Homo sapiens: one gene and its partners. The protein of the gene in region 1 purifies or fractionates together with the protein of each later gene. This does not show direct contact. Each region holds a gene or a part of one and is shown in the gene's direction. Other genes may lie near its edges.

Evidence for each region.
Region 2: the proteins of SPINK7 (region 1) and ZER1 purify together in Homo sapiens (affinity purification with mass spectrometry; 2 studies listed by BioGRID and IntAct, with this or other methods). This does not show direct contact.
Region 3: the proteins of SPINK7 (region 1) and SMPX purify together in Homo sapiens (affinity purification with mass spectrometry; 2 studies listed by BioGRID and IntAct, with this or other methods). This does not show direct contact.

The regions. Positions count from the first base shown.
Region 1 is NC_000005.10:148,307,901-148,315,524, forward strand, and holds the start of SPINK7 (serine protease inhibitor Kazal-type 7 precursor), read left to right. Parts: upstream 1-4,522; 5' UTR 4,523-4,583; coding exon 4,584-4,644; intron 4,645-5,473; coding exon 5,474-5,499; intron 5,500-6,199; coding exon 6,200-6,324; intron 6,325-7,624. UniProt on the Homo sapiens protein: Probable serine protease inhibitor.
Region 2 is NC_000009.12:128,733,928-128,741,091, reverse strand, and holds part of ZER1 (protein zer-1 homolog), read left to right. Parts: intron 1-204; coding exon 205-320; intron 321-972; coding exon 973-1,161; intron 1,162-5,660; coding exon 5,661-5,758; intron 5,759-7,164. UniProt on the Homo sapiens protein: Serves as substrate adapter subunit in the E3 ubiquitin ligase complex ZYG11B-CUL2-Elongin BC. Acts to target substrates bearing N-terminal degrons for proteasomal degradation with the first four residues of substrates being the key recognition elements.
Region 3 is NC_000023.11:21,755,117-21,762,366, reverse strand, and holds the start of SMPX (small muscular protein), read left to right. Parts: upstream 1-4,250; 5' UTR 4,251-4,425; intron 4,426-7,250. UniProt on the Homo sapiens protein: Plays a role in the regulatory network through which muscle cells coordinate their structural and functional states during growth, adaptation, and repair.

The DNA.
Region 1 (7,624 bases):
GACTCCTACATCCTGTTCAAGAAGGACAATCCTGAGCACACAATTAGCCATGTAAACTTCAGACTGACATCGATTGAAAGAATGCTGGAAAAATATCACAGACCATAGCTGGAATATCTTTGAGGTCGTCCATGCTCTGATGATGTCACTCTTCTTTGCCTGTCTGGAAGACATCTCCCCAAGAGCACACCACCAACATCAGGGGGGTGGAATCCAACTGGTCACTGCAAGTTTGCTGCTTACACAATGACAAGCATAGCAAGATCTGGAGAGAAACGGAATATTTTTGTGTATAATATGATGTTCTGCTTTGTGTTGTTCTGTGCTTTGAAATTTACCAAATTAAAAAAAAACTACTAAATACTGATCATCATTTACATTTCTGTTACATTAGGATTAGAGATAAGTTCTGTTTAGAAATAACTCCAAGAACAGTTTTTGTATTTTATTTTCACATTGAAAATTAGATTTACTTCAGCCTCAAAGAGCATGTTTATGTAAAAATAAATGAATGCCGGCAGCAAGCTGCACTTTTTTTTTCTAAATGGGAAAAGAGCTAATTTTATTCTGCCTTCTTCATGATGAAACCAGGACCATAGTTATTCTCTCTTACAAGGCCTCAAGATTTTCTCCTTGGAGAACTATAAGGATAAATGAAAAAACTATCCTGAAATGGACTGCTTTTATCTTCACAGGCTTTGACTCTCATTTTAAAAGCCTCCTCCATAATTTGTGCCTCAGTATCTGGCTGGAAAATTTCCTCTCTATGTAAATGGCTTCCAAAACCCAAACCAACCCCTCTCCTGATCCCTTGACCTCACCTTTCCTCATCCTTTTCAATCGAGAGACGTTTATCTCCACCCACTGGATACACCCTGAGGATCATTATCTCAGCCCCACCCCTGAGAAATAGTATCCGACAACTTGATTCCTAGCCCTGTCTCAATAAACAATTGTTCTTATTTCCTATACCTACCACATTTTGCCTAAACCTTGATCTCTAAACACTTAAATGCCTGTACCTTGTGTAGCCCATCAGAAACTTCTGGAACATTTAACTCTCTTTCAAGCTTTGCCACCTCCTAATGCAGTCTTTATGGTATCTTCAAGCCTCTGATGTATCCATTCCCTATCTATAAAATCACTGTTCCCCATTTCTCACTCTGTGTCGCACAAACTTTGGGAGAAATACGAGGAATAGTACTAATTGGGCCTTCTAAAATCTAGTTCTAACTTGTCCAGTGGCCATTAATCTTTAGATCCATTGCTGACTATCTGACATGCTGCCAAGTCTTCTATCATCTGTCTCAAGCTCCCAAACGAACCCAGTTCTCCCAGTGCAAAAAAGCAAACCAGCACTGAACAACTAGAGCCTACCTTACAGTGGGCTTCCCCCATCTCTCCTTCCTTACCCTTCAAAATATGCCTGTCTCTACATTTATCCACTCTTCTCTCTCTCATGTGTCAGAGAAAATGGTTTTTCATCTGTGCTCTTAACCTTATTTTCTATCTTTCTACATGCATCTAATTAGCCACTCTCTACCATGTATGTAAAATTTCTTCTTCTCTTTGGTTTTAAGACATGCTCAGTCTATCCTAGATCTTTCTGTAGCCTCAGCTTCTTCCATTCCTCCTTTGACTATCAAAAATTTAAAAAAAAATCTGTGATCCTATCTTTTACCACCATTTTGACCACCCTTTGACCCTATTCCCACTCCTCTTTGATAAAAGCACATTTTCAAACTGCAATAAAGATACCTCATCTTGAAACACAATGGCTTTTTCTTAGGATTCATTCTTTTCAAACATTCATGGCAAACAATGAAACCTACAATTACCTCTCCTTATTGGAACCTTCACTTTGCTTCTTTTCCTTGACTGAACTCAGCAGTTTCCTCCATTAATTGTATCATGATCCTTGGGAGATTACTTAAATCCTCTGAGTCTTAACTTACTCACTGGCAAAACTAGGGTAACAAAAACTCCTTCCTTAATGAGTTGTTATAAAGAGCACATTCCATATTATTAGCTACCATATATCAAGATCTAATTATGAGCTTGGTGCCCTAATACACAAATACATACAAACCACACAAGCATACCACACAGACACCTCACAGACATGCATCCATAAGAGATTATATGCACAGTTGACCCTTGAATAAAATTGGTCTGAACTGCACATGTTGACTTATACATAGATTTTCTTCTACCTCTGCCACTCCTGAGACAGTAAAATCAACTTTTCCTCTTTCTTCTTCTCCTTAGTCTACTCAAGATGAGGACAACAAAGATGAAAACTTTTATGATGATCCATTTCCACTTAATTAATGTAAATATATTTTATCTTCCTTACAATTTTCTTAATAACATTTTCTTTTTTCTAGCTTACTTTGTTGTAGGAATACAGTGTATAATACATGTAACATACAAAACGTGTAGATTAACTGTTTATGTTATTAATAAGGTCAACAGTAGGATATTAAGGATATTAATAGTTAAATTATTGAAAAATAAAAAAATTGTATGTTAATTTTTCAACTGTGGTGGTGTCAGCACCCCGGACGCCATGTTGTTCAAGAGTTGAATGTATAATGTGTGTGTGTGAGAGAGTGTGTGTCTGTAAAATCTAATTTAACACTCAAAACAACCTATGAGGTAAATATTATTTCTGTCATAAGGATGAAGACACTAAAGTATCAGATGTTAACCTAAATACTAAAAGACACACAGTCAACATTTTTTAGAAGAAAGATTCTAAATGGGATCTACTCAATGCCCATGCTCTTAACTACTAGATTACATTGCCTCCCAAACAGATATAGGAGTAAAATATTAGAGATTATGCAATATCATTTATTAGTCACTTAATATGTCTTGTAGATGCTAGTTTTAGAATGTACTAAAATAAACCTGCCAAGCAGTAAACTAGTGGGACAGTCTACTGCCTTCCCCCAGGTCTTCATACATATGTCCTTAAACTCAATAAGCAAACTGCAGCTATTTGGACAGTTGTGCATGGACAATACAGTTTACAATCTAATGTCAGCAACTCATAGCATTAACTCTTGGTTTGTAAATAATAATAACAATCACAATAATATTATTAAATGCACTGTGCTTTAGAGCAGACTTTTATGTATATGATTCCAATTATGTGAACTCTATTGTGGCTAACAACAGGCCCTATTGGACTGGGATGAAACTCAGTCTCTGGGATGGTCTCTGTTGTTTGCCAACTATTCTAGTTCTTCATCCAACCTTCAGGTCAGGGAACAGGTCAGGACAAGGTAAGACTGTGTATTAATCTGTTTTCAAGCTGCTGATAAAGACATACCCAAGATTGGGTAATTTATAAAGAAAAAGAAGTTTAATGGGCTCACAGTTCCACATGGCTGAAGAGGCCTCACAATCATGGCAGAAAGTGAATGGCATGTCTTACATGGCAGCAGGCAAGAGAGAATGAGAGCCAAGTGCAAGGGGAAACCCCTTATAAAACCATCAGATCTTGTGAGACTTATTCACTTCCATGAGAACAGTATGGGGGAAACTGCCTCCATGATTCAATTATCTCCCACCAGGTCCCTCCCACAACATATGGGAATTATGGGAGCTACAATTCAAGATGGGATTTGGGTGGAGACACAGCTAAACCACATCAGATTGATTGCACTCACTCCATACATAACAAAGCATGTGATGGCCACGAGACCATGAGGGGAAGTGACAGCAGTATTGCTCTGGGCTGGAAGTTTTAATTGCTAAAATGAGAACTCCTTGAGAACGAACTCAACTTCACTTCACCTTGACTACAGTGTTCCAAATAGTGATGACTCTGCCCACTTGGCATCCACAGTGAAGGCAATGTAGCATGAACAGCTGACTACCATACAAGTGTAGCTTGAGTAAGAAACAAAGTTTTGTTTTAATTCACAGAAATCTTGTGGTTACATGTTATCACGACATAACCAAGCCTTTTGGATTGATAAAGGCTCACAGCATATAACGACTTATCCAAGATTATACAGGTAGAAAATATCAGAAGTATTATGTTAGTGCTTTTCTCCATACCTCATAAATGCTAATGTCAGTGTTCCTTCCATTAGGTCCCAGTTTGCTTCATTGGTTCATTGCCTCAAAAATAAACAATATTTCCCCAGGTGCCAAGATATAAACGTAGGTGTAATCAGTCTAATCGGGGTTTAATAGATTCCAGTTTCGTAAAATAAAGGAGGTTTGAGATTTTCACTTATTTCATAACTAAGTCAAGAAGCTCATACTTAGTCTCTTCTAGTTCATGAAGTTTAGAATTCTTAACAGTCCCACCTTTGGGGAAGATAGAAAATACTTCTTACCTCAAATAATCAAATCATTGGTCAGATAAGAAGTGGCAGTTCAGTAACAAGGACTGTAACACAGCCCAGGGTGTGGCACCGTGCTTTGAGATCCTCTGGATGACCTCACAGGAAAGGCGGAGAAACCAAGCCTTGCATATATATAAACATGACCCCTTACCTGGGATATGGTCGATGCAGCTGTAGTGACAATCTCAGAGCAGCTTCTACACCACAGCCATTTCCAGCATGAAGATCACTGGGGGTCTCCTTCTGCTCTGTACAGTGGTCTATTTCTGTAGCAGCTCAGGTAAGTTAAGGTCAGACAGTGCCCTATATAGCCATTAAGATTGTTTTCATAAATAATCCCTCCTGCGATGTGAGCATCTCAGAAACATCTGGTTGTAAGAATTTAAAGTGTACTGGTTTGTAATAGGATCTTATGTTCCATCTGGAGTTTGAGAGACTTGAGTCCAATGTCTTCACTTTCAAGGATTCTTATTTGCATCCATAGAACAAAAAATGATCTAATTTCTCTGTAAGTCTTCCATTTCTATGTTCATATGGACACTGGAAGTTGTCAGTGTTATTAGATATACCATTTCTTAGTGCAAAGATACAGAAAAACTTGGATGTCTTCCCAAATCAGTTTGGGGGGATTAAAATAAAACACAAGTCTCAAAAAGCCAAGGGTCAACAATTAGACTTTTATACTGTGAAAAATTAATTAAAGTGTTTCCAACCACATAAAGACATTCAATTGCATTTCTTTATGTCAATTGGGAAGGAAAGGATATCAGAGATGATCCTTCAGGCTCTTAGGAGTGATGATTTTAATACTTCTTATTGCTACTTGACTTTGGCCATTATCAAAAACACTATGAGGTTCAGAAAACATTCCATGATCAATAAATAGAGGAAATTTTTATAATTCTCTTACCTAAACCAAGGGTTAACCTAACCCATTGGCCATTCAACTTCCTCAGCAAACAACTAGGATTTTGCATAAGGATGGAGAGTGTGCTGAATCTCATTGCTAAAGGAAATGTAGAGTAATTATATAGGATGAAACTTATATTAATTAATGAGATTTAAAGTTTGCTTTACTTTTAACATCTTCATCTGTATCTCTTTTTCAGAAGCTGCTAGTCTGTCTCCAAAAAAAGTAAGTATGTTGAATAACATTTTAATGTCAATAACTATTGACTGTCATTTAGTCAACATATATGTAGGATAAATTATGTTTAGGGGGATTCGAGAGGGAGGCAAACACACATGGAGAAATGGTACCTGTTCTCCAGAAGGCAACTAAACAAATATGACATACATATAAACAACCATATTTTAAAAATGTTTTTTAAAAATGCCAGAGTTAAAGAAGGGAGAACCGCCTTCCAGCTGAGAAGTTGGTGATGTTTTCATAAAAGGCATAACGTGTAAAAGGCAGAGCAAAAGTACCCTGATAAATTGCACAGGCTCTAGATTCAAATCCTAACTCTACTACTTACCAGCATTTATCTTCAACAAGTTATCTCTATTTCTAAGCTTTAATTTTCACATTTGTAAAGAGAGGTAATAGTAGAATTTACTCTAGTTGTTCTGAAGATTAAACAAGAAAATTCATGCAAGATTTAAGTTTAACGCCTAGCCCAGAAATGCCCAGCAATTGTTAACTGAGTGTAGCAGAAAAAAATAGAATACCAGTAGTGCTAGTATTTGTCATAGTGATAACACTAGTACTTAAAGAAGTGGCCAAGCAACATCTGAATATCTGAGCTGGGACTTCCAGCCCTTGTAGTATATCTAATAGTGGCCTAGCTTGGGGTCTGGGAGAAAAACAGGACATTTGCTTGTATATGACACAGGTGGACTGCAGCATTTACAAGAAGTATCCAGTGGTGGCCATCCCCTGCCCCATCACATACCTACCAGTTTGTGGTTCTGACTACATCACCTATGGGAATGAATGTCACTTGTGTACCGAGAGCTTGTGAGTACCTCATAAGAAGAAAATGAGATCTGGAGTCAGTGCTCTCTACTACAAACGCTTCTACTTTCCAGGATCCAGCTTAAATCTCTATAAGCTGTAATTTATAATTATTCCCACCCAGAACAGCAGGTGGGGATAGAAAACTGACTGTTGCACAATCAGACAGGGTAGAGTCACCTGCTCTGCCAGCTTGGACTAGTCCCATCCCATCACAGAACCTCCAGTTCCTGTCTGTCAATTGTGAGAATCCAGTAAGGCTGTGGATTCTCAAACTGCTGTCCCCAGAGCACAGAGGTTCTATAGAGGCAAGTCAGGAGTCACCATTAGGGTTAAAGGGACTATTTGGGGTAGTTGACAACATAAAGTTCAGCTTTGACTATTTTAAGTAGTGGAGTGCCATACAATATCATGCTTGAAGAAAGGGCCCTGAATCCCCACCCCCCATAAAATAATTGAAAACTACTACACTACCTGACTTAGATTCTAAGATAATTAACATCCTCACTGCAGCTTGATTCTTAGACAAAGTGTCCCTAGAGGTTCTTTATCTTCGAATTTCTAGAGGCTCTAAGTATCTGTAGCTTTAAGGGGGGAATAAGGCTACAAAAATGATTACTTTTCCTTTATCTAAAATAAGGGATGCAAGCTGTCAGTATTTGGACCAGAATACCACGGACATGTTTTGTTTAGGTATTTTCTTTGGCCCACAAAATGTTTTTGCAGAAATGTAGCTAGGCAGATGTCACTTCTTTGGTACAAGACATGCAAATTACACTTAACTGTCTCATAGCAAGTCTGCTGTGATCATCGTTAACTCTTTTAGGCCACTGGATTTTGGACACTTAGATCTTGCGTTTTCATCTTTGTGATTATCTTAACAAGTGAGAACAACAAGCCCTTAGCCCAAAAGGACATGTCTATGTATTTATTCCTATTTGGGAGGTTTTATTTCACAAAAGGGAAAATTCTGTAACATAGGCAGACTGGGAAACTAGCCCTTGGCCAGGAAACTAGCTGTTTTCAAGGGACACTGGAGAGAAACATGATGAAAGTCCTCCTCACTAATGCAGGATCCAGCTTCGTCAAAGGACTTGCTGACCAGGAAAAGCTGAGAGACAGGCCCTCTCAATTTTGTCAGAGTACTCTTTCTTTGTTGTGTTAAGACACTGGGTGGTCAGTGGGGCTCTGGAATCAGAGGAGGCAGCAGAGGGGTGGAATTATCACTGGACTAGGGAAATTCTGCTTCTTCCTCTGTCAGAATGTGCTTTGGCAAGGTCATTCATTTTCTGAGACTCAGTTT
Region 2 (7,164 bases), on another chromosome or scaffold:
TGGCAAGCAATCCCACCCCTTTAATTCCTTAGTGTGTGTACCCAGCACTGACCTAGGAGCATTGGAGGGTAGGAGGGCAGCATATATGCCCCCTCTTTGTCTAGTTGGCATGGCCAGATGCCCATGAAGCTTTTTGGTTAACAATACCAGATACTAAGTCATTAAGTACTAATTGATGCGGCCCATTGGCTCTCCTTTTCCCAGGAATTCCCAGAGAAGCAGGAACTGCATAGGAATATGCTAGGACTTTTGGGGAATGTGGCAGAAGTGAAGGAGCTGAGGCCTCAACTAATGACTTCCCAGTTCATCAGCGTCTTCAGGTTGGTATTTTTAATCCTTTCCCTTTTTGCCTTAGCTGCCACAATGCTCAGAGCTCTAGCGTTTGCTCAGTTGCACAACTGCTCTTAGCCTAGGTTTGCTATAAATGTCATTTTCCCTCGATAATGTGGTTTCTTATTCATTCAATCCTTCGTAAGTGGTCCTTTTGTAATTATATCTTTTTTTTTTTTTTTGAGATGGAGTCTTGCTCTGTCACCCAGGCTGAAGTGCAGTGGCACAATCTAGGCTCACTGCAAGCTCTGCCTCCCGGGTTCACGCCATTCTCCTGCCTCAGCCTCCCGAGTAGCTGAGACTACAGGCGCCTGCCACCACGCCCAGCTAATTTTTTTGTATTTTTAGTAGAGATGGGGTTTCACCATGTTAGCCAGGATGGTCTCGATCTCCGGACCTCGTGATCCACCTGCCTTGACCTCCCAAAGTGCTGGGATTACAGGCGTGAGCCACTGCGCCCAGCCTGTAATTATATCTTAAATGACCTCAAATCCCTTTAGAAGTAGTCTGGGTATATAGACGATATGGGATAAAGAAATAAGTAGCACCTCTTGCTTCTGGTTTTAAGTTGGGGTCCTGCCGCTGGTATCTGAAGAGAAACTGGGGGAGTGGGACTCCATTTTTCTGTCTTTCTCCTGGCAGCAACCTGTTGGAGAGCAAGGCCGATGGGATCGAGGTTTCCTACAATGCCTGCGGCGTCCTCTCCCACATCATGTTTGATGGACCCGAGGCCTGGGGCGTCTGTGAGCCCCAGCGTGAGGAGGTGGAGGAACGCATGTGGGCTGCCATCCAGAGCTGGGACATAAACTCTCGGAGAAACATCAATTACAGGTGTGGGCAGGGCAGGGAGCGGGGATGCGGTGTGGAATATGGGGTAAGTGCTGGGCAGGATGCTCATACCATTAAGGTCTGCTCAGAGCTCCCACCTTCCTTCTGGTCTTCTGTAGGGTTCTGCTTTCACTCATTGATACGTAGCCGCACACAGCACAGAGCATACATAAGGGCACGATCTCATCCGTGCAGCCTGGAGCATTTGTCATACATGCCAACATCTGCATGTACCCAAAGCCTGCTCTTTGCAAACCACTAATACCTACTGATTTGTGGGGAGGGGTGGGGAGAAAATAGACACACAACAGAAAACCATACAGGTGGGCCGGGCACAGTAGCTCTTGCCCATAATCCCAGCACTTTGGGAAGCTGAGACAGGAGGATCACTTGAGCCCAAGATTTCCTTTCTTTTCTTTTTTTTTTTTTTTTGAGACAGAGTCTTGCTCTGTCGCCCAGGCTGGAGTGCAGTGGTGCAATCTCAGCTGACTGCAAGCTCTGCCTCCTGGGTTCACGCCATTTTCCTGCCTCAGCCTCAGAGTAGCTGGGATTACAGGCACCCGCCACCACGCCCGGTTAATTTTTTTGTATTTTTAGTAGAGACGAGTTTTCACCGTGTTAGCCAGGATAGTTTCGATCTCCTGACCTCGTGATCCGCCCACGTCGGCCTCCCAAAGTGCTGGGATTACAGGCATGAGCCACTGCGTCCAGCTGAGCCCAAGATTTCAAGACCAGCTTGGGCAACATAGTGAGACTTCCTCTTTACGAAAAATTTTAAAAATCAGGCCAGGTGCAGTGGTTCACGCCTGTAATCATAGCACTTTAGGAGGCTGAGGCGGGCAGATCACGAGGTCAGGAGTTCAAGACCAGCCTGCCCAACATGGTGAAACCCCGTCCCTACTAAAAATACAAAAATTAACCTGGCGTGGTGGCACATACCTGTAATCCCAGCTACTCAGGAGGCTGAGGCAGGAGAATCGCTTGAACCCAGGAGGCAGAGGTTGCAGTGAACCGAGATGGCGCCACTGCATTCCAGCCTGGGCAACAGACCAAGACTCCATCTCAAAAAAAAAAAAAAAAAAAAATGAGCTGGGTGTGATGGTGCACACCTGTAGTCCCACCTACTGGGGAGGCTGAGGCAGGAGGGTCACTTGAGCCCAGGAGGTCGAGGCTGTAGTGAGCCAACATCATGCTACTGCACTCCAGCCTAGGGGACAGAATGAGACCATTTCTTTAAAAAAAAGAAGAAGGTCAGGCGCGGTGGCTCACACCCGTAATCCCAGCACTTTGGGAGGCAGAGGCGGGCGGATCATGAGGTCAGGAAATCGAGACCATCTTGGCTAACGCAGTGAAACCCCACCTCTACTAAAAATACAAAAAATTAGCCGGGCGTGGTGGCATGCGCCTGTAGTCCCAGCTACTCGGGAGGCTGAGGCAGGAGAATGGTGTGAACCTGGGAGGCGGAGCTTGCAGTTAGCCGAGATCGCGCCACTGCACTCCAGCCTGGGCGACAGAGCGAGACTCCGTCTCAAAAATAAATAAATAAAAATAAAAATAAAAATAAATTAAAAAAACAAGAAAACAAAACAGGGCCGGGCACAGTGGCTCACACCTGTAATCCCAGCACTTTGGGAGGCAGAGGCGGGCAGATCATGAGGTCAGGAAATCGAGACCATCTTGGCTAACGCAGTGAAACCCCACCTCTACTAAAAATACAAAAAATTAGCCGGGCGTGGTGGCATGCGCCTGTAGTCCCAGCTACTCGGGAGGCTGAGGCAGGAGAATGGCGTGAACCTGGGAGGCGGAGCTTGCAGTTAGCCAAGATCGCGCCACTGCACTCCAGCCTGGGCGACAGAGCGAGACTCCGTCTCAAAAATAAATAAATAAAAATAAAAATAAAAATGAATAAAAAAAACAAGAAAACAAAACAGGGCCGGGCACAGTGGCTCACACCTGTAATCCCAGCACTTTGGGAGGCTGAGGCAGGCGGATCACCTGAGGTCAGGAGTTCGAAACCAGCCTGGCCAACACAGTGAAACCCCATCTCTGCTAAAAATACAAAAATTAGCCAGGCATGGTGGTGGGCACCTGTAATCCCAGCTACTTGGGAGGCTGAGGCAGGAGAATCACTTGAACCTGGAAGGCAGAGGTTGCAGTGAGCCAAGAACTCGCCACTGCACTCCAGCCTGGGCAACAGAGTGATACTCCATCTCAAAAAAAAAAGAAGAAGAAGAAAACAAGAATCGTTCATAATCTCACTCCCTGAAAGAGAACTCCTGTTGACATTTTGGTGTGTCTCCTTCCAGCAGTGTTTCTATGCACAGATTTCATTACTTTAAGTCAAGCTGGCATCAATTCCTACTGTTTTGTGACTGACTGGCCAATCACCAGGCATGGATCTCCCTCGTCATTTTAGGACGGAGTCACTTTCTTTGTGCCATCCTGTACAGATGGACATTTCAGTTGAAAACCCATACTGGGAGGAACAGGCTGACATTGGTAGCGTTGCCAGTGTGCCAAGTACTATAGTTCTTGGGGAGAAAGGAAGCGGAATCGCTGGCCCAGGAGTTTTGCACACACGTGTTTCAGGCTTTTGGACCATGACTCCAGGCTGGCCCACAGAAGGCCCTCGTCAGAAGAGCAGTCACAGGCCGGATGCGGTGGCTCACACCTAGAATCCCAGCCACTTTGGGAGGCCAAGGCAGGAAGATCACTTGAGCTCAGGAGTTTGAAACCAGCCTGGGCAATATAGTGAGCCCTCACCTCTACAAAAAAAAAAATTTTTTTTTTGAGACGGAGTCTCGCACTGTCACCCAGGCTGGAGTGCAATGGTGTGATCTTGGCTCACTGCAACCCCCGTCTCCCAGGTTCAAGCGATTCTCCTGTCTCAGCCTCCCGAGTAGCTGGGATTACAGGTGCACGTTACCATGCTCAACTAATTTTTTGTACTTTAGTGGAGACGGGGTTTCACTGTGTTGCCCAGGTTGGTCTCAAACTCCTGAGCTCAGGCAATCCACCCCCCTCAGCCTCCCAAAGTGCTAGGATTACAGGTGTGAGCCATTGCACCTGGCCAAAAAAAATTTTTTTTTAATTAGCCAGGCATGGTGGCTCACACCTATAGTCCCAGCTCCTCAGGAGGCTGAGGTGGGAGGAACACTTGCATGGCCTGGAAGGTCAAGGCTGCAGTGAGCTGTGATCATGCCACTGCACTCCAGCCTGGGCAGCAGAGCGAGACCCTTTCTCCAAAAAAAAAAAAAAAAAGGCCAGGCATGGTGGCTCACGCCTGTAATCCTAGCACTTTGGGAGGCCAAGGCGGGTGGTCAGGAGTTCAAGACCAGCCTGGCCAACAGCAAAATGATGCTCTAACCAAAAATTAGCTGGGCATGGTGGCATGCACCTGTAGTCCCAGCTACTCGGGAGGCTGAGGCAGGAGAATCATGTGAACCCAGGAGGCAGAGGTTGCAGTGAGCCGAGATTGCACCACTGAACTCCAGCCTGGGCGACAGAGTGAGACTCCGTCTCAAAAAAAAAAAAAACAAAGAAAAAAGGGCTGGACATGGTGGTTCACGCCTATAATCCCAGCACTTTGGGAGGCCAAGGCAGGTGGATCACTTGAGGTCAGGAGTTCGAAACCAACCTGGCCAACATAGTGAAACCCTGTCTCTACCAAAAATACAAAATTTAGGCCGGGCGCGGTGGCTCACGCCTATAATCCCAGCACTCTGGGAGGCTGAGGTGGGTGGATCACGAGGTCAGGAGATCGAGACCATCCTGGCTAACACGGTGAAACCCCGTCTCTACTAAAAAATACAAAAAAATTAGCCGGGTTTGGTGGTAGGCGCCTGTAGTCCCAGCTACTCGGGAGGCTGAGGCAGGAGAATGGCGTGAACCAGGGAGGCGGAGCTTGCAGTGAGCCGAGATCATGCCACTGCACTCCAGCCTGAGCGACAGAGCAAGACTCTGTCTCAAAAGAAAAAAAAATGCAAAAATTAGCTGGGTGTGGTGGCACACCCCTGTAGTCTCAGTTACTCAGGAGGCTGAGGCAGGAGAATCGCTTGAACCCAGGAGGCAGAGGTTGCAGTGAGTGGAGATTGCACCAGTGCACCCCAGCCTGGGCAACAGAGCGAAACTCCGTCTCACAAAAAAAAAAAAAAAAAAAAAAAAAAAAAAAACCAGGTCACACGTGCTTCTGTTCCCAGGGTGCCTCTCCCCTCTTCCCCACAGGCTGGGTCTCTGCTCCTTGCTGAGGTCTCCAGCTTTCTGCTCCTCCTAATCTGGGTCCCTTGTGCCTCCCTCATGTGCTTGTGCCTTTATCCTCTCCAAGGGAACCTTGTTGTGCAGCCTGCCAGTGGGATGCAGGGCCAGCTGTCCCTTCTCCCTGGCATCCTGCCAGCCTATCATGGTTGGTCACTAGGATTCTCCAGTGGGAGGAAACCTCAGACAAGAAAAGACACACTCCCCACCCTCAGCATCCACAGTGACCTTGATTTCTTTTCCTGCAGGTCATTTGAACCAATTCTCCGCCTCCTTCCCCAGGGAATCTCTCCTGTCAGCCAGCACTGGGCAACCTGGGCCCTGTATAACCTCGTGTCTGTCTACCGTGAGTGCCAACTTGTCCTGGGTTCAGACACTCATCCAGCTGAAAGCAGATGTGCCCTCAGGGAGTTTGTAGTCCAGGAGGGGGGCATTAATTGCTGCTGTCAGCTTTTGTGCCTCAGAGCAGAACCCTCCACTTTCCAGCGTTTGTGGGACACCCAGCTTAAGGGCTCACTCCTGCCTCATCACCAGAAGCAGGCCTGGCAGGCGAAATACCTGTGCAGAGTTCCTAGACAGCTTTCTTAATGCTTCCCGCTTCCATGTGCAGGAACAGTCCAAAATCTCCATGCCTGCTGGGCTCAGTGGTGCACACCAGCTATTCAGGAGGCCGAGACAGGAGAATTGCCTGAGGTCTGGAGTTTCCAGCTGCAATGACCTATGATCATGCCTGTGAATAGCCATTGCACTCCGGCCTGAGCAACATAGTGAGACCCCCATCTCCAGAAGTAAAATAAAAGTCTCCATGCTGTCTGCATGAAAAAAAAAAAAAACACATACCATCAGCTGGTTCCAACCTGGCAGGTCACCAGAATCACCTGGTAAAAATACAGATAAATCTTAGTCCTTGGATTTGTTGAAAAAGAATATCCAGAGACAGGGCTTAGAAATCTATATTTTTACAGAAATTCCTCAAAGGATCACCATCTTTAGGAGCCACTGGTTTCACTGGTTTGGGTGACATCTTCCATAGAATGAGCGCTGGAGGCCAGGCATAGTGGCTCACACCTGTAATCCCAGCACTTAGGGAGGCTGAGGTGGGAGGATTGTTTGAGCCCAAGAGGTTGAGACCAGCACAGGCAACACAGCGCAACCCTGTCTCTACTTAAAAAAAAAAAAATTAGTCCGGGTGCAGTGGCTCATGCCTGTAATCCTAGCACATTGGGAGGCTGAGACGGGCAGATCATTTGAGGCCAAGAGTTTGAGACCACCCTGGCCAACATAGTGAAACCCCGTCTCTACTAAAAATACAAAAATTAGCTGGGCTTGATGGCACGTGCCTGTAGTCCCAGCTACTAGGGAGGCTGAGACAAAATAATCGTTTGAACCCAGGAGGCAGAGGTTGCAGTGAGCTCAGATCGTGCCACTGCACTCCAGCCTGGGTGACAGAGTGAGACTCTGTCTCAAAAAAAAAATTATATCTATTATATATATATATATATTTTTTTTAAGATTTTATATATATATATATATATTTTTTTTTTTTTTTTTTGAGACGGAGTTTTGCTCTGTCGCCCAGGCTGGAGTGCAGTGGCGCGATCTCGACTCACTGCAAGCTCCGCCTCCCGGGTTCACGCCATTCTCCTGCCTCAGCCTCCCGTGTAGCTGGGACTACAGGCGCCCGCCACCATGCCTGGCTAATTTTTGTATTTTTAGTAGAGACGGGGTTTCACCGTGTTAGCCAGGATGGTC
Region 3 (7,250 bases), on another chromosome or scaffold:
GGGCACATGCCAAGAGGGCATTCACAGATGGGACAATGGTATGAGCAGCCTGGCTCCTCCTGTTGGTTTGTGCATGGAAGAATAGGGGAAACACATGGAATTTGGAGCCTGCAGACCTAGATTAGAGTTTTGACTCAGCCACTTCCTAGGCATATGACTTGACCTTTTCCAGTGTGTTTTGTCATTTATAAAGTGGAGATAAACAAACAATACCTGCTTCATAAGGTGGTGAGAATTAAATGAGATTATGTGTTTGGAAGCACATTTTCCATTAAAGCTCTGTATGTGTGTGCACGTTTTGTCTGTGTCACTGCTGTTTCCTTTCTTCTTCATTGCTAAGAGCATCCCAATTTTATATGGGACATTTGATCTTAGCTAATCATTTCTATTCCATTCACCTGCTGCCATTTATTTCTTTTCTCAGCCTCCTTTGCAGCCACGAGACCCAGTTCCAGCCAAAGAGATGTGAGGGGAAGTCAGCTTGGGGCTTCTGGGAAAGAGTTTCCTCCTTGAGAAGAAAAGCCCCTTTTCCCACCATCACTGCTATTCCTTCTTGTTTGGATGCTCGTAAAATGTCCTAATACTTGGAGCTGTGGCAGCCATCTTGGGAACATAAGTTAAGAAGCATGAGGATGAAAAGCTGACTTGTTGAGAGTGGCAGAGTAGATCCTCCTTCCCAAAGAGGATCTGGGAAGAGCCTGAGAGTTTTTGACTTCGTAGAATTTCCGAACCAGCCCATAACTACCTTCCTTTAAGTTCCTAGGTTTGTGAGATGATCAAATGACTGTTGATTGAGCCACTGCTAGTTAGGTTTTCTGTTAACTTGCAAGCAGATGCATCCTGTTACCATATTTGTATGTGCTTATGTGGGGCATACAGATGAGTGTGGTTCCTTGAGGGCACTGTGGTATAACAGGAAAGAGCACTAACTTTGAGAGTCAAAAGCTGGGGATAACTGGCTCTGAAATGATAGTCTGAGCCTTGGCTTACTGATCGATAAAACTGGAAGAATGCCACTGAACCCACAGGGCTGTTGGGAGGACTAAATAAAATAATACAAATGAAAGCACATTGCAACTGAGCAAGGGTTGCATAGATGTAAGATGTTGTTAGATATCCTGCTCTTTGACCATAGTGGAGGAGGGATGAAGGCATGCAGGTAGGAATGACTTAAGTGAATTTCGATTTTGTCAACACCCCCGCCACCATACCCCTCTTTGTGATCTCCACTGAAATATGCCCAAAGGACTCAAGCTACCCCCTCAATGCCCAGTACCCTCTAGCTCTCCATTTTCCATACTTTAAGGCTATGTTTTTCCAACTTCTCCTCCTATCTCAATCCTCTCAAAAAGAAATGGACTCATCTTGTGCCCCATCCCTTCAGGCCCAGTTAATTGTCACTCACCAACCTGGTATGTGTAGGTGTGTGTCAGAGACTTCTTCTGTTACCCTTGCCAAACAACATGTGTTTTTTTGTTTGTTTGTTTTTGAGGCAGAGTCTCGCTCTGTTGCCCAGGCTGGAGTGCAGTGGCATGATCTCGGCTCACTGCAACCTCCGCCTGCCAGGTTCAAGCGATTCTCCTGCCTCAGCCTCCCAAGTAGCTGGGATTACAGATGCGCATCCCCATGCCCAGCTAATTTTTGTATTTTTTTAGTAGAGATGGGGTTTCACCATGTTGGCCAGGCCAGTCTTGAACTCCTGACCTCAAGTGATCTGCCCGCCTGGGCCTCCCAAAGTGCTGGGATTACAGACGTGAGCCACCGCACCAGCCAACATGTGTTTTTGTGGAGTCTTAAACCAATAACGTGACAATAGGAGTACACATTTCAGGCTATTGCAAGAAGTCAAGGAAAAGCACTTGGCTTCTTGGTGCCTCTTGGAGACCCAACTGGGAGAGCTGCTCAGCTCAGAACTATTCCCCTTTCTGGGAAGGACGTAATGCACAGGTATGTACCCCAATGGCCTCCTCTGTGCTCGGTAACCTTGTCGCTAACCAGGAGTGCGGTATTGACTCAGGCTGGGGCAACCAGAGTCCTGAGGTCTTTAAAATTGCAGTTGCAGAAATAGATTCATCACTCTCTAGTGAGGTCTGAGTTCTTGGTTCTGGTTATTGATGAGGTTCACCTGCAGCCCTGCCCTTCCTCTTGCAATGTGAAACCTTCCTAATAAATTCCTTTTTCTTAGTTCGGGTTGCCTCAACTCCAAATGCTGAGACAAGGACTTGGTTGCAGGTGATCTACTTGGGGCATGATCCCAGAGAATGCAAGGGAGTGGGGGAAGTGAGGGAAAAGAGAAAGCCAATAAGGGTATATTAATGAGCAAATCCCCATGGTGGGCAACTGGGGCTCAGTCCTGCTGGGGACCTCTGGGAAACTGTAGATCACACCTCAGAATATTCCGACCACAGGATGAGGAAGTGGGGACATCTATCACTCAACTTCCATTCCCATTGGTTGAGGCTTATCCCTAGGGGTGTTGTTTCCCGGCACTTATGAGTTATGTCTCCTGCTTTTGGATGATGTGCAGAGTCCCAGTGTAGAGAAAAAGAGAGAGGTGTGAAGCTGACAGTATACTGGAAGCTGCCTACAACTACAGAACTCAGGTGGACAGAAGTGATACTGAGAAAGGCATTGACTGTCTGCCACACCCCTCTTGGCTTAAACTGGTTCCCTTTGGGTTACTGTGACTTATGACCAACAGAGCCCTGGTTATGCAGCTCACTTTAGTTTTTCCCACAGAGGCAGCCACACTCATATTGGGCCAGCCCTGTGTACAAGGCATTTCTGCCAGGAGCAGTTTCCTCAACATATACACCATCAGTGGCTACTGAGGGGCCACCGGGGCAAAAGGACTGTGGCAGAAAGTGTGGTCTAACTTCAGGACAAGGGGCCAAAAATGGCTCATTGTTGGTCCATGGAGTGATGCCATCATTTGTCTGGTGAAGAGCTCTGAACACACAGAAGTAGCCAAAAACCTGGAGAAATATTAAGGTGCTCACTATATTCTCTTCTCCAGTGTATAAATAACTCACTTTTGGCACCATGTGATCTCAAAGGATGATGTCTAAACTGAATTTTAAAGATACAATTCTTTTGAACAACACCTAAACAGAAGTTAATGGTGAACCCCAATCTAAAATGAACCACAATTATCTGTTGACCTCCTAAACTCCCAGAAAGTTGGTTTTCCTTCTACAGTTCTGAAAAAAGCCCAACTACTTCCATCTGGAATGCATTCAGCTACAGGGAACAGAAGCCTGATGTCTAGGGCTCCTACAAATTGGAGCTGCTTCTTTTCCTCATGTAACAAGAAGACTGGTAAGCGATGGTTGCTGGTAATATAGTTCAGTGGCTTGACCATGCTGTCAAGAACTCAGACATGGAGCTCACTTCCACAGTGGATGGATTTTAAGTCTCTCCACTCTGTTTAATACTTCTACTGAAGTACAGCTCTGGGTAAAGGTAATTTCAGAGAGTGGAGAGGTTAAAAAAATTAAAAGTGGTGTTAAAAATAGTGAGCATGTATCTTAGGATTTGGAAGTTTTCTGTTTAAAAAATGTTTTGCCTTGTACCTGCTCCTGACCCTTGCCATATTTAAAATAGACATTTCTTCTTTGTTCTGTTGTCTCACGTACTCTAAGGTCAAAATCTTTGTCACCAGTAGAGGCAGTAGAGCAGAGTGGGCAGGGCTGTAGGCCCTGGAACCTCACCAGCCTGTCAATCTTGGACCATTTTTGACCTACAAAAAGGGCAATGTCATATAGTTCAACTTACTAGGATAATTATCATCATTTGGTGACTATTTGTTGAGTACTTATTATTAAGTAACTTTAACAGCTCCCAAGTGACCAAGCTAGGATTCAAACCCTGTTTAATGTCAGTACCCCTGCTGAGAGGCATGGTACCATGCTGACACCCCCCAATTTTTATTGAATACTCATCTTCTGGCATCCAGGTAATAAAGCTAAAGATAGACTTTCCTTACTTTTCGAACTTTGCTATACCCACTCAGAATATATGAGAAAATGCAGCCAGCATCTTCTGGAAGATTAGGAGGGCAAGTAAGATACCATAGCCACCTCCCGGCTGACATTTGAGCCTGCTTTCCGCACGGTCAAGCCTTTCGGAGGCAGCCAGCGTATGGCTTGTATCAAACTCTATATTTAGGAAGAACAACTGTGAGCTATGACAGGAATTCTCTTTAACACTTAGCCTTAACGGTTTAAGTTCCCCTCCAGCCCCGAGCCAGGAGCAGTTCTCAATACCGGGAGAGGCACAGAGCTATTTCAGCCACATGAAAAGCATCGGAATTGAGATCGCAGCTCAGAGGACACCGGGCGCCCCTTCCACCTTCCAAGGAGCTTTGTATTCTTGCATCTGGCTGCCTGGGACTTCCCTTAGGCAGTAAACAAATACATAAAGCAGGTAAGCAGAAGGACGCAGCTCCGGCGACTGGGTTTTCTAAAGGAAATTTCCTTGATACCTAACTCGAAGTGACTACTTTTAACTTTGTAGGCTTGTAACCAGTGGGTGTAGCTTCCTTGTAAATTCATTTTTCATTGGTGGTATTGCTGATTCTGTTTATAAATTGTGAGGGGTGAGGGTGCTGAAAGAATATTGAACTAGGCAAATACTGAAAGGCAGTTTTCATCGATAGTGGCAACAATAAAATGTCCACAGTCTAGAAATGATAACTGTGACCTTGAAGCTGTGCTGGCCAGGATTACAGTCGGTCAGCTGCAGATTGATTGAAGCCCTAAGCCAAGAAATCATCAGAATTTGGGCCAGAGAGAAGCTATAATGCTAGTTCCTTTATTTACCAAAATGCAAATTATTGCCAGAGTTTTTATACAGTACAAGTTTAAAATGATTTTCTCCTCTCCCTAAGCACCAGGCTTGGTCTCAATGATAACGTTCTATCAATGATAGAACCATCTTTTTAAATCTTCACTTTGGTCACAGTATTCCCATACTCAGCAGGGTAGAGGGCAGCACTCACTGTCCCTTTCTATGTGGGCACCAGGTTCTGAAGTATGAGAACGCTAAGAGTACCTCTTTCCTCTCAGCATATTTAAAGCAGAGTGAATAAGGAGTTAGTCAGTTCAGACAGCTGAACATCTTTCTACACCCTTCTCAGGAATTATTTTTAGCTGCAGGACAGAAGATAATTCCCTTTGCGATGGAGCTTTACCCACTTATTCGACCTTTAAAAAGAACAAACAAAGCTCTTATCTCTGAATAGTGATTGATTTTCCTCTGAATCCCTTCTTATTAAATGAGTGATATTACTATTGACAAATTTTTAGTAAGTCAAAGAGTTCTATTTAGAAGTCAGATATTAGGTGCTGCCCAATCAAAGACAAGCAGGGATATATCATAGGTGACTCAGCATACAGACCATTAATGGTCCCCACTGACTTACAGAACTGCCAGGAAAACTCAGCGGTGCTTAGCTGGCAAGCATTTTCATTATACTATAGGCTTTGTAAAAGTCAATATATGCCTTGTCAAACTTTCCATGTTTCAAAACTGTAGCCAGAACCAGGAGACGTAGTAATTGAGTGCTGTAAAGAGTACCTCTTTGGACGAAAAGCAGTGGCCCTGGTGGGAGTGGAGTGTGTATCTAAGGTGTAGTTTTCTTTTCTTGGTCCCGGGATGAAGCATTCAGATGAAGAAGGAAGGTGTGTTCCGCACTCTACATCCCTGATAGAGGTGACTGCAGGGGCAGGGAAACAGGGAACACTGTCTATTTTTATTCATCAGTATGCTTTGCCCTGATTTCTCTGAAAATAATGAGGACAGCAGGAACCGCTGCTGAACTGATTTACACAAATGTTATCCAGCCTGTTTGTGAGGAATGAGAGTTGGGATCTGACCAGCTTTCTATAGATCTCTCTTTCAAAGATTGACATGCATGTTAAGAGATTTGTATGCAAATCAGAATCTACCAAAAATACAGGAGACGAGGCCCATCCATTCTTGAGGCTCAGAGGTTCACACAAAAACAGCAATCCAGTAGTAAGTTAAATCAGTCCATTGAAAATATAAAATTGGTTTTTAAAAAAATACAGTATAACAATCATTCATTGACTAATTTTAAAAAACATTTCAACTTGCTATTGTCATAACATAAAGAAATTTTCTAATCCCTGTTTCAAATTGATGTACAATAATTTTTTTAACAAGTTCCCAAGTGATATTAAACTTTAGTTGTACACACACAGAGAATACCATATGCTGAGATATTTAAAGTTCTGTGAAAATTATTGCTTTGTATGACTTCTAACAGCTTTTGAAGAATAAAAACGTTAAAAATTAAGCCACGAAGCTTTTCTTTTTGGAATTAAGCTGTATGTCCTAGATCCACAAATTAAAAATCCTTCATTTCTTTATGACACTGCAGGAAAGACAGCAATCTATTTGAAACATATCACAGAGAAAAATGTATCCTTGACTGTTCCATTTGTTATTGCTTTTTAATTTTGTAACCGTATTAAAAATAATTCTACCTAGACCCTTATGCATGGAGGCTAAATCTATATGTTACAAAGACATTCAAGTGAAACTCTTTAAAAAGAGTCCTATTGTTTTCATGTATGTGGCTCCAAAAACTATATATTTGGATACCCTGAGTATAGAGGTTTTTAAAAAATATGGAATTGTTTAACTTCACATAATAGAGCCTAAGACTTTAGAGATTTCAAAAGACTTATTTTTCACAGAGTTCTTTTCAGATCTTTTATCTCTACAGGTGTTGGGGAACATACCTATATAAATTATTACTCTGAACTTAAAGCTGGAGATGAGTACAGCACTCCAAGGTCATTAGCTATGGACGATGGTAGTAAACAATGAATATTTGCATCATGCTTTACAGTTCACAAGGCCTTTTCAGGAGCATGTATGTAATATGGATTCTTACCACAACCTGTGAAGCAGGTAAAATTTAAAGAAGAGGAAATGGGCTTAGAAATATTGAGTGACATTGCCCAGGTTACACAAGATGTGTGGCAAATGCCAACACTGCTTTTTGCATTCTTTTACTCACCAGTGGACACACCACTTACACCAGTCAATAGACCTCAATCAACCTGTTGTACAGTTTGGGTTTAAAACACAGCATGTTTTGAATTCAATGAATTTTTAATTTTTCAATTGGTCCTGCTGACATTTAATAGGCCTAGCTACAAAAACAGGCCAGAGCTAGACCATTCTCTTCTCCCCTATCCCCAGTAAATTGCATCCCGCAT